2 linked regions of the Homo sapiens genome follow. The protein of the gene in region 2 interacts with the protein of the main gene of each other region in a pairwise test. Each region holds a gene or a part of one and is shown on either strand. Other genes may lie near its edges. The genes, in order: RAPGEF5 and TMEM253.

Evidence for each region.
Region 1: the proteins of TMEM253 (region 2) and RAPGEF5 interact in a two-hybrid assay, tested with the Homo sapiens proteins (one large-scale study listed by BioGRID and IntAct).

What each region holds. Positions count from the first base shown.
Region 1 is NC_000007.14:22,350,425-22,354,238, forward strand, and holds part of RAPGEF5 (rap guanine nucleotide exchange factor 5), read right to left. Parts: intron 1-3,814. UniProt on the Homo sapiens protein: Guanine nucleotide exchange factor (GEF) for RAP1A, RAP2A and MRAS/M-Ras-GTP. Its association with MRAS inhibits Rap1 activation.
Region 2 is NC_000014.9:21,099,551-21,104,071, reverse strand, and holds TMEM253 (transmembrane protein 253), read right to left. Parts: upstream 3,007-4,521; 5' UTR 2,888-3,006; intron 2,765-2,887; 5' UTR 2,729-2,764; coding exon 2,621-2,728; intron 2,208-2,620; coding exon 2,097-2,207; intron 2,009-2,096; coding exon 1,952-2,008; exon of another isoform or gene 1,880-1,951; intron 1,668-1,879; coding exon 1,557-1,667; intron 1,440-1,556; coding exon 1,293-1,439; intron 934-1,292; coding exon 814-933; 3' UTR 348-813; downstream 1-347.

The sequences.
Region 1 (3,814 bases), on a different chromosome or scaffold from region 2:
CCATGAAAGTCCTTTTGCATAGAGTAAGCATCCTGCCAGGGACATAACTATTTAAGTTCCAATGTACCCAACACTTTATATTCTATTCATGGAAAAACCTGATCCACTGTGTATGTCATTACAGAGGAAGACACTGAGGCTCAGAATGCTCAGAGAATAACTAATGCAAAGATAATAAGTGATAGCACTGGGATTCAAACCCACTCTGAAGCCACAGCCTGTGTCTTTTCCTGGGATCTAATTATGTCACCAAAGTGTGGGGGTTGGGAGGGAAAGGAAGAAATAAGTAAATAAAATATTAACTTGCCATTGAGTTCCTTTGCTAGAATTCACACGAAATTAAATGAATCTACAGTTTCTTTTCCTTCTTCCCAAATAAATATTTTTGAAGTTGGCATCCACAGAGCTTTATTTTATCTGTAGCCATAGCTAACACAGTTTTACACCAAGGATCAGGATAGTAGTTTGTCAGCAAGCAGAGGCAGTGAAGTCAATATTTCTCAAATAAGTTCACTATGTGTCCCTCATATCTGATCTGACTCACCCTTCCTGGCAGATGCATGCCTCTCTTAATGGCCTTTATCTTCTGGCTGCCATAAGCAGATGAGAACAAAGTAAGCTGGGTGAATTCACAAGGTTTTTGGATTGACCTTGATCAAGTGAGCATGGCTGATTTTGCTTATGACACATGGATGCTGTTTTGTTTTGTATTTTAGTTGTTTGTTTGTTTGTTTGTTTTTTGTAGCAACATGGTCTTGCTTTGTTGCCCAGGCTGATCTTGAGCTATTTTTAATTTAAGTAAACATTAGTTACCTTTCGCCTATAACCACAATGCTTCTCCCCACTTCCCCTAAACCCAATATGTCAATAATAAGCTTCTGTGTGCCCAAATAAAAGTGAAAAGTCTGACATTATTAATGGCATTTATTTACCTCTCTCAGAGTGGTAAGATAATATCAGCAGGTACTATAAGGCTATCACAGTTTAGAGTAAATAGACCCTTTGCCCTCTCAATGCATTTGAGGAAAACTAAAGTTAATTCAGAGCATGGACTTGGCTCTACGGAAACAGGATACATAGATGCAAACCTCCCTTCTGGCACACACTCTGTAACCTCGGGCAAATTACACCTGTGTTTCAGTTTCTTCATCTGTGGAATGCAAATAGCAGCATCTAACTCATAGGCTCATAGGCTTGTAGTGAGAGTTGAAGTTTATATCAGAATATGCATGGTACATAATTAAGTGCTATGATGTTAGCCATTGATTTCAATTTAAACACAAAGAATAAATGACATGCTTTGCCTGTAAAATAGGTGCCTAAAACGGCGATACATTGGGCATACTGGTATATAATTTGGATCGGTTTCTATTTCTCAATCAATAAAGTCAAGTTTCTAGCAGAGGAGGGTATTGAGTCAGAGCTAAAGCACTCCAGCTTGTACAAAGGGAAAGGGATACTTTGTTCCTTTTTGAGACGGAATCATCTGGGCAAAGAAAAAGAGAGAACTTCATTCAGAGGGCTACCAGCTGTTCTTCCCAGTTTCTCAATTTTGAAGAGCACAGGCCATAAGAACCCTGGCTAGTGAAGGGTGGTTAAAGAGAATTAGGCCCTTCTGATGACCAATCCAAAAGCTGGGAATCACTGAAGGTCTTTGGTGAGCAATTTGGCACAACTGGTGAATCATTCTGGCTGCTGTAAATGAAACAGATACCAAGACGTTGAAGACAGTGGCAGAGGCTGCAGAAAACATCACAGCAGCCAAAGCCCAAAATAAGTCAGTCCCAGCATTTTGACAGTATATACAGAAAAAGGGAATAGCTGTTATCAGTTCTTTTATTAGGGGGAAAATATCAGTCTTAGAAACAACCTGATGAGAAAGACTTAAAAAGATACAAAAAAGTAAGGTAGGAGGCTTAAGACCAAGGGAAAAATAATGCAACCACTAAGAAAGGTAAAAGATGGGGAAATGAACGATTGTCAGTTTAAAAAAAAAAAATTCATCAATGCTCCTTGGGAAAATGGCTGATTTCAGGGTTTCAGGTCGGGAGCAGCAGACTATGGACAAGATGCACTTAGAATATCTTGCGTCAGAAAAGTAAGAAAGGTATTTGAGTTTACTGGCCATTTAAAAAGTATACAGGAGACAAAGATAAACCAAGCACCAAAAAGGATATTGACTGAAGTGACAGAAACAAATACATTAAGATTCATAAGTTCTTAATGACACTTAAAAAAGAAAAACTCACTGGTTCTCACTGGAGATTGTTAAAGCACCAAATCATTACTCTGATAGTTGGTAAAAGGAAAAAATTAAGACTTTTCCCTGTCTATCCTGCACATTGTGAATTTCAGGAGACCTAAATAATTTATGAGGGAAAGTTCTTTACAGACCGAATTCCAATTAATAAATGCAAGAAGAATGATGGATTTAGATCATCACCATTTTGCAACCCCTAATGAAAAGGATCTAGGCTACAACGATCTGTGATACTAAAATCATTAAGTAGAAGACAGACAGCTAAGTGACACTACCTAAACTCACGAATCAATCTTTCCATCTCAAAAAGAGAGATATCCAGACATTATGCGTCTCACGATGTGATGCAATAGATTTTACACAGCACCATCCATGAAGGTTACTTGTCTTTGAACCTATATCTAATCAAACCTCTATATCTAACTGCCAGATCACAGGAAACAGAATAGAGGAACAAGCTAAACATCACCACAAGGAATCAGTCCAGACAGTAGGATGTTCTACAGCACAAATGAACCACTCTCTTCTGCAAATCACTGGCATGAAAAAAGGGAGGGGAAGCTGTTATAAAATAAATTAGAAATCCTAACAACTAAATACAATATGTGGACCTCATTTAGCTCCTGTTTCCAACAATCATAAGTAAAAAGACAACTTTGAGAAAATTTGAATATGGAAATTATATTTTTAAATTATTAATATTTTAGGTGTGAAAAAGGCAAAGTTTTGCTGTTGTTTTTAATGTCCTTATCAGGACCGTAAACTGAAAAATTTGTGAGTAAGACAACATGATGTACGGAATTTTGTTTTAAAATGCACTAGCCCCTACAAAAGTGTATGGAGGGGGAAAATAAATGAAACAAGACTGGCAAAATGCTAATAACTGTTGAAGCACAGGTGTTCATTATACCATTCTCTCATAATCTCTGTTATACAATTAAAAAAATTAAAGGGTTTTGTCAGGAACTCAGGTTGTGCATTACTTTGCTACTGATTTTTAAGAGGTAGTTAGGGCCCTCCCACAATGTACAACTTAGTCTTTCCCTCATTTGTCTTAAAGAAGTGCAAAGAGTCTTAACCAGTATGCATGCTGAATTCAACACAACTAGAAGTGACTGAACTGAGGAACCAAGGAACTCAGGCATATTAACCAAATGGCAGTTTGATTTTTTCCTAGTAACAGATAGCCTACAACGTAGTGAGACCCCCAGTCTCTAAAAGAAATAGGAAAAAAAAAATTAGCCAAGCATGGTGGTGTGTGCCTGTATCCCAGTTCCTCAGGAGGCTGAGGTGGGAGGACCGCTTGAGCCAGAAGGTCGAGGCTATAGTGAGCTATGATCACACCACTGCACTCCAGCCTAGGTGGCAGAGCAAAACCCTGTCTCAGAAAAAAAACAAAACAAAACAACAACAACAAAAAAAGCCTATAATGCACCTGGGTTGAGCAACACAACCCACAAAGAACTTTGTTAATGTCAGTTGATGTCAGATTGTCCAGGTTTGTGGGAGCCCAGGGCAGCATGGATAAGGACCACACATATTCCTAAATCAGAT
Region 2 (4,521 bases):
GCCCCGCGCTTCTGACTCATCATCTCCAACCCCTTTCTCGCGCGCGCTCCAAGTCTCAGGACTTCGGACCTGGGCCCTCCTGCGAGGGGGTGCGGCGACAGCATCTGGGAAGCCCCAGCTCTGCCAAGCGTCAGCTCCGAGCCCTCGCCAGTCTCTGAAGCTGCCAGCGCAGGGCTGGGGACCCAGATCCAGCTCTCTATTGCAGTGGCTGGGGGAGCGGCACGCCAGTGCAGGACCGCCCGCCCGGCTCCTCCCCGAACGCGGGGCCAGTGGTCGCGTCCGAGAAAGCGCCAGGCTAGGCCCCGACTTCCCCGCCTCGCGTCACTCAGCACATCCAACAGCGCCCCTACCGCGGAGAGAAGGCTCTTTATTTCCTAGCCGGTCACGGGCTAGCGGGGCATCCTGGGACTTGTAGTCTCCGCTACAGTAGAAAGGAGATGGATCGAAAGGGGAACTGGGGCACTCCTGAATTGGATTCAGGGAGTTGGCGTGTGCAGGGTCCGGGATTTGGAGTGGATGGGATTATGAAAGGTGGACAGAAAAGAAAAGTGCGATGAGGCAAATGTGAAGCTGTATGGGGAGGTGACAGGAAGAGAGGATATGGATGCAAGGGAGAAAGCAGCTTTTCAGGGTGGTGAGGTGAGGATATATTCTCGTCCAGGTGTATCTTCCCCTAACAGGGAAGGAACGAAAAAAGGGCCTGCTTTGAGTGAAAACTGAAGGCACTCCCGGACTTCCTATTGGACTCGAAGGATCCCAGCAAGCTTCTGAGTTTGGTGGGGTGGGATGCAGGAATGTCTGGAGAGCATTCTCTCAGGGTGGAAGGAGAGCAGCACGTGTCTGTTCCCGCTGTCCCACCCTCTCATTTGCTCCTGTGCTGGCCACCGTGGGACCATTCTCCAAACCAGGAACCTCTTCCAACTCAGAGAAGCCCTGAAAACCAGAGACAGGTGTGAGCAAATTGTAGAGGTGAGAAAGGAGAAACCCCAGACAGAAACAACTGCTTCCTCCTGCCCAATTTTCTATCCTGTTTCCCATAGTCCTGCCAATATTTAGGCAGCTTCCTAATGCTTTCCCACTCTTTTAACCTCAATCATTTGGATTCCCAGTTTCCTCTTACCCACCATTAGGGGAGAAATGTTCAAAGCCAGAGAAAGCCAATCAGTTTCATTCTAGGACCTCTTCTTTTCTCTCCTGCCCCATTATTTTCCCTTAAGTGCCACTGACCAGGATAGGCAGTGGAAAAATTAGTTGGCAGCTAGCTATTCGTGCTTTCTTCCCTGCCCCCATACCTCCTGCAGCTCTTGATAGTGCAGACTCTGGCTCCTGCAGCATCCTGGTTTCCTCTGGCTCAGCAAGAATAGGGCGTGCACTGAGACCAGCACTCCCCCTAGGGTGAAGGCCTCAGCACTGAGTTCCAGCACCAGCAAGCCAGCATGCTGCAGGTAGACAGGGCTGAGAATGCAGGGACCCCGCACCTGTTTGCCCCTGCCCTTTTCCCTTCCCACCTCCTCTTGCCTCCTTATCCTCCCACCTTCTCCTTCATTGACCAGTACCTGGGAGGAGGCAGTTGGGGCAGGCCCCAAGGCTGTCTTCATCACCTCGACCACCACCACTATGAAACCCAAGATCAAGTTGAAGGTGTTGAATATCATCATGGCCCGCACCTGCCAGTGAGCCAGCTCAGCCCTGCCCAGCCTAGGGGAGTCATTCCAACCTCAATCCCCACTTGCAGCCTAGCTGAAGACAAAACTCAGCTTCTGCTTCTCAGCCTCCAAACAGGGCCATAAGCCCTCTTAACTTTTTTGCTTTCCTCCTCAGTGATTGAGGCCAGTCAGTGGTGACAGCTGAGAGAATGAGTCAACACTTAGCCACTTACTTCCTAGGCTGAGGGTTGTAGGTGTCTGTTTTAGGGAGTGGGAGGACAGTGCTGCGTTTTCTTCCCTCTCACCTTCCAAAGGCGGGGTGCTCTGCGAAGCTCCAGAGTGACAGTCCCAGTGAGGAGACCCTGAATGGTGAGAAGGGCAAGTGTTGAGCTCTGGTCCCGTTAGGAAGGGGCCCTGGGACCTTCCACCCTCCCTTGTGGTGGGTCTTACTGAGGCTCCAGGCCCAAGAGGCAGCGCTGTGGCCATGTGACAATCAGAGTTCAGGCAGGCGACTGAGACAGCAAGGGGCACCACAACCACTGCCAGCCATAGCTGGCTCACCTGGGGGTAAGGGTAGGGTAATTGGGGAGGAACTGTCAGGGATTCCCTCCCTTCTCGTAACTCCTACCTCTTTAGAGATCAGGAAATGGGATTGAATGCAGGGTGGAGGAAAGCAGTCAACCCAGAGCAAGGACGTGATCATTAAAAATTAAGTATCATTTAATTTTTTCTGCCTCATATTGTAGTTTAGTTACTTACCTGTATGTTTTCCCCCACAAGATGGAAGCTACTTGGGAGATTAAGGGTCTTGCCTTGTTTATTTCTATGTTTTCCTCTACCCTCCTCCCATTCAGAACCTAGCTCAGTTTCTGGCACATGGTAGGTGCTCACTTAACATGGATGGATGGATGGATGGAATTGAATTGGGTAGAAGTGGACATGCTGAGACCTGGGATGGGGTAGCCTGGCCTCACCGCTAGCACCAAGAGGTGCCCACTCTGCCTGTGCCTTGCCCAGTGTTGTAGCTTTTCCAGACGAAGGCTGTGTCTCTCCTGCTCTTGCTCACCAGCTCTATCTTCCATGGCTCCTTTGCCCACAAGAATTAGGTGCTTCCTAGGCTGGGAAAAATGCGTTATAGGTTCTGTCTATTAGGAGACAGGACATGCAACAACGTATCTTTCAGCTACACCTCTGCCCACTCCCAATATCCAGGGATTTGAGGTCCAGGTCCTCACACCTACCTAGTCTGAAGCAGCTACTCCAAAGGGATGGGACCCAGCTGGGTCCTAGGTCTCCTAAGGGGCTTGATAGCTCAGAGCAGACGACAAACTTGTCCTGGCAGAGGAAGGCTGTCAGGGATGGGGTGTGGTGGGGCAAAGGTTTCTATGAAGGCCTAAGGATCTAGGGAGTGGCCCTGGGTAGATACCGGCCTCAGTTCACTCCACAAGATGTCTAGCCCGACCTCACTCTGTTCCCATTTCTCATTACCCTCATTTCTGCCCATCCTGGGTTCCTTTTCTGGTTTCACTTACCTCATCCCCATGGACACTATCACTCTGGACCTCAATTCCCCCTCATTTCCATATGATCTTACTCCTTTCTTTGGCTTCCTCCTCAAATTATGTGCCCTTCCCTAGAGATCCTACTTTCTGTCTGGATTGGTCCCCTGTCATTACTACTTGCAGCTTTGCCCCCAGACCAGGTAAGGTTGAATTCCAGGGGCTTTCTTGCCTCTCACTTTCTGGACAGTCTCCCTTCCTTCTTTCTTGAAGGTTTTACTCTGAACTGAACACTGACTCAATGGATGGGGGGGACCCTGTTTATGGTGGGGATTGTTTTTGATTCAATGATAACCTGCAACTGGACATTATCTATCTATCTATCTATCTATCTCATGGTCCTCAAATAGTGAGTCTTGGGAAGGATGCTATTGCAACAATTAATATTTTTGAGAGAGAAGGTGCCTCATAGCCAGACAGACCTGAGCTGGAATCTTAGCTCTGCTGCTTCTCCATCTGTGTGATCTTGGATACATTATTATTATTATTATTATTATATTATTGAGACAGGGGCTCACTGTCACCCAGGCTGGAGTGCAGTGGCATGATCATGGCTCACTGTAGCCAACACCTTCTGGGCACAAATAATCATCCTGCCTCAGTCTCCCAAGTAGCTGGGATCACAGGCACATGCCACCATGCCTGGCTAATTTTTAAATTTTTTGTAGAGACAGGGTCGTCTCACAATGTTGCCTAAGCTGGTCTCAAACTCCTGGGCTCAAGCCATCCTCCCTGCTTGGCCTCCCAAACTGCTGGGATTACAGGTGTGGGCCACTGTGTCTGTCCTGATAGATATGTTTTTCTACCTATTCGCACCTCAGTTTATTCACTGATAAAAGGGGGCTAACAATATGACTGTGAAGAGTTGTTGATTCAGGGTGGGTGTTTAATAACTATTAGTGGTGCTGATGAGGTCACACCGATAAGTCTGATGCCCATACACTAAAAGTGTTATTCAGAAGGAAGCTGGGGACACATTTCTACAGTCGGAAGCAGAACCAGCTGGGCCCAAATATACTCTATAGATCAAAACAAATCCCAGATCTACCTAGGTGCCCTTGGCAAGTTGCTTAATCTCTCTGTTCCCTTATCTATAAAAGGAAGTTAATAATACCAGTCTCAAGGGGTTGCTTTCAGCATGGAAGAGAGCTTAGCCCAGTACCTGGTACACAAGTGCTCAATGTTAGTGGCTATGATCATCATCACTATTATTATTTCTTGTTGTTGACGATAAGAGGAGACTGCGCCAGAAGACTCTAGAAGTTAGTACGAGGAGGGAGGCAGGGTCCTGGGAGGCAAGTGATCTTTTGTAAGCC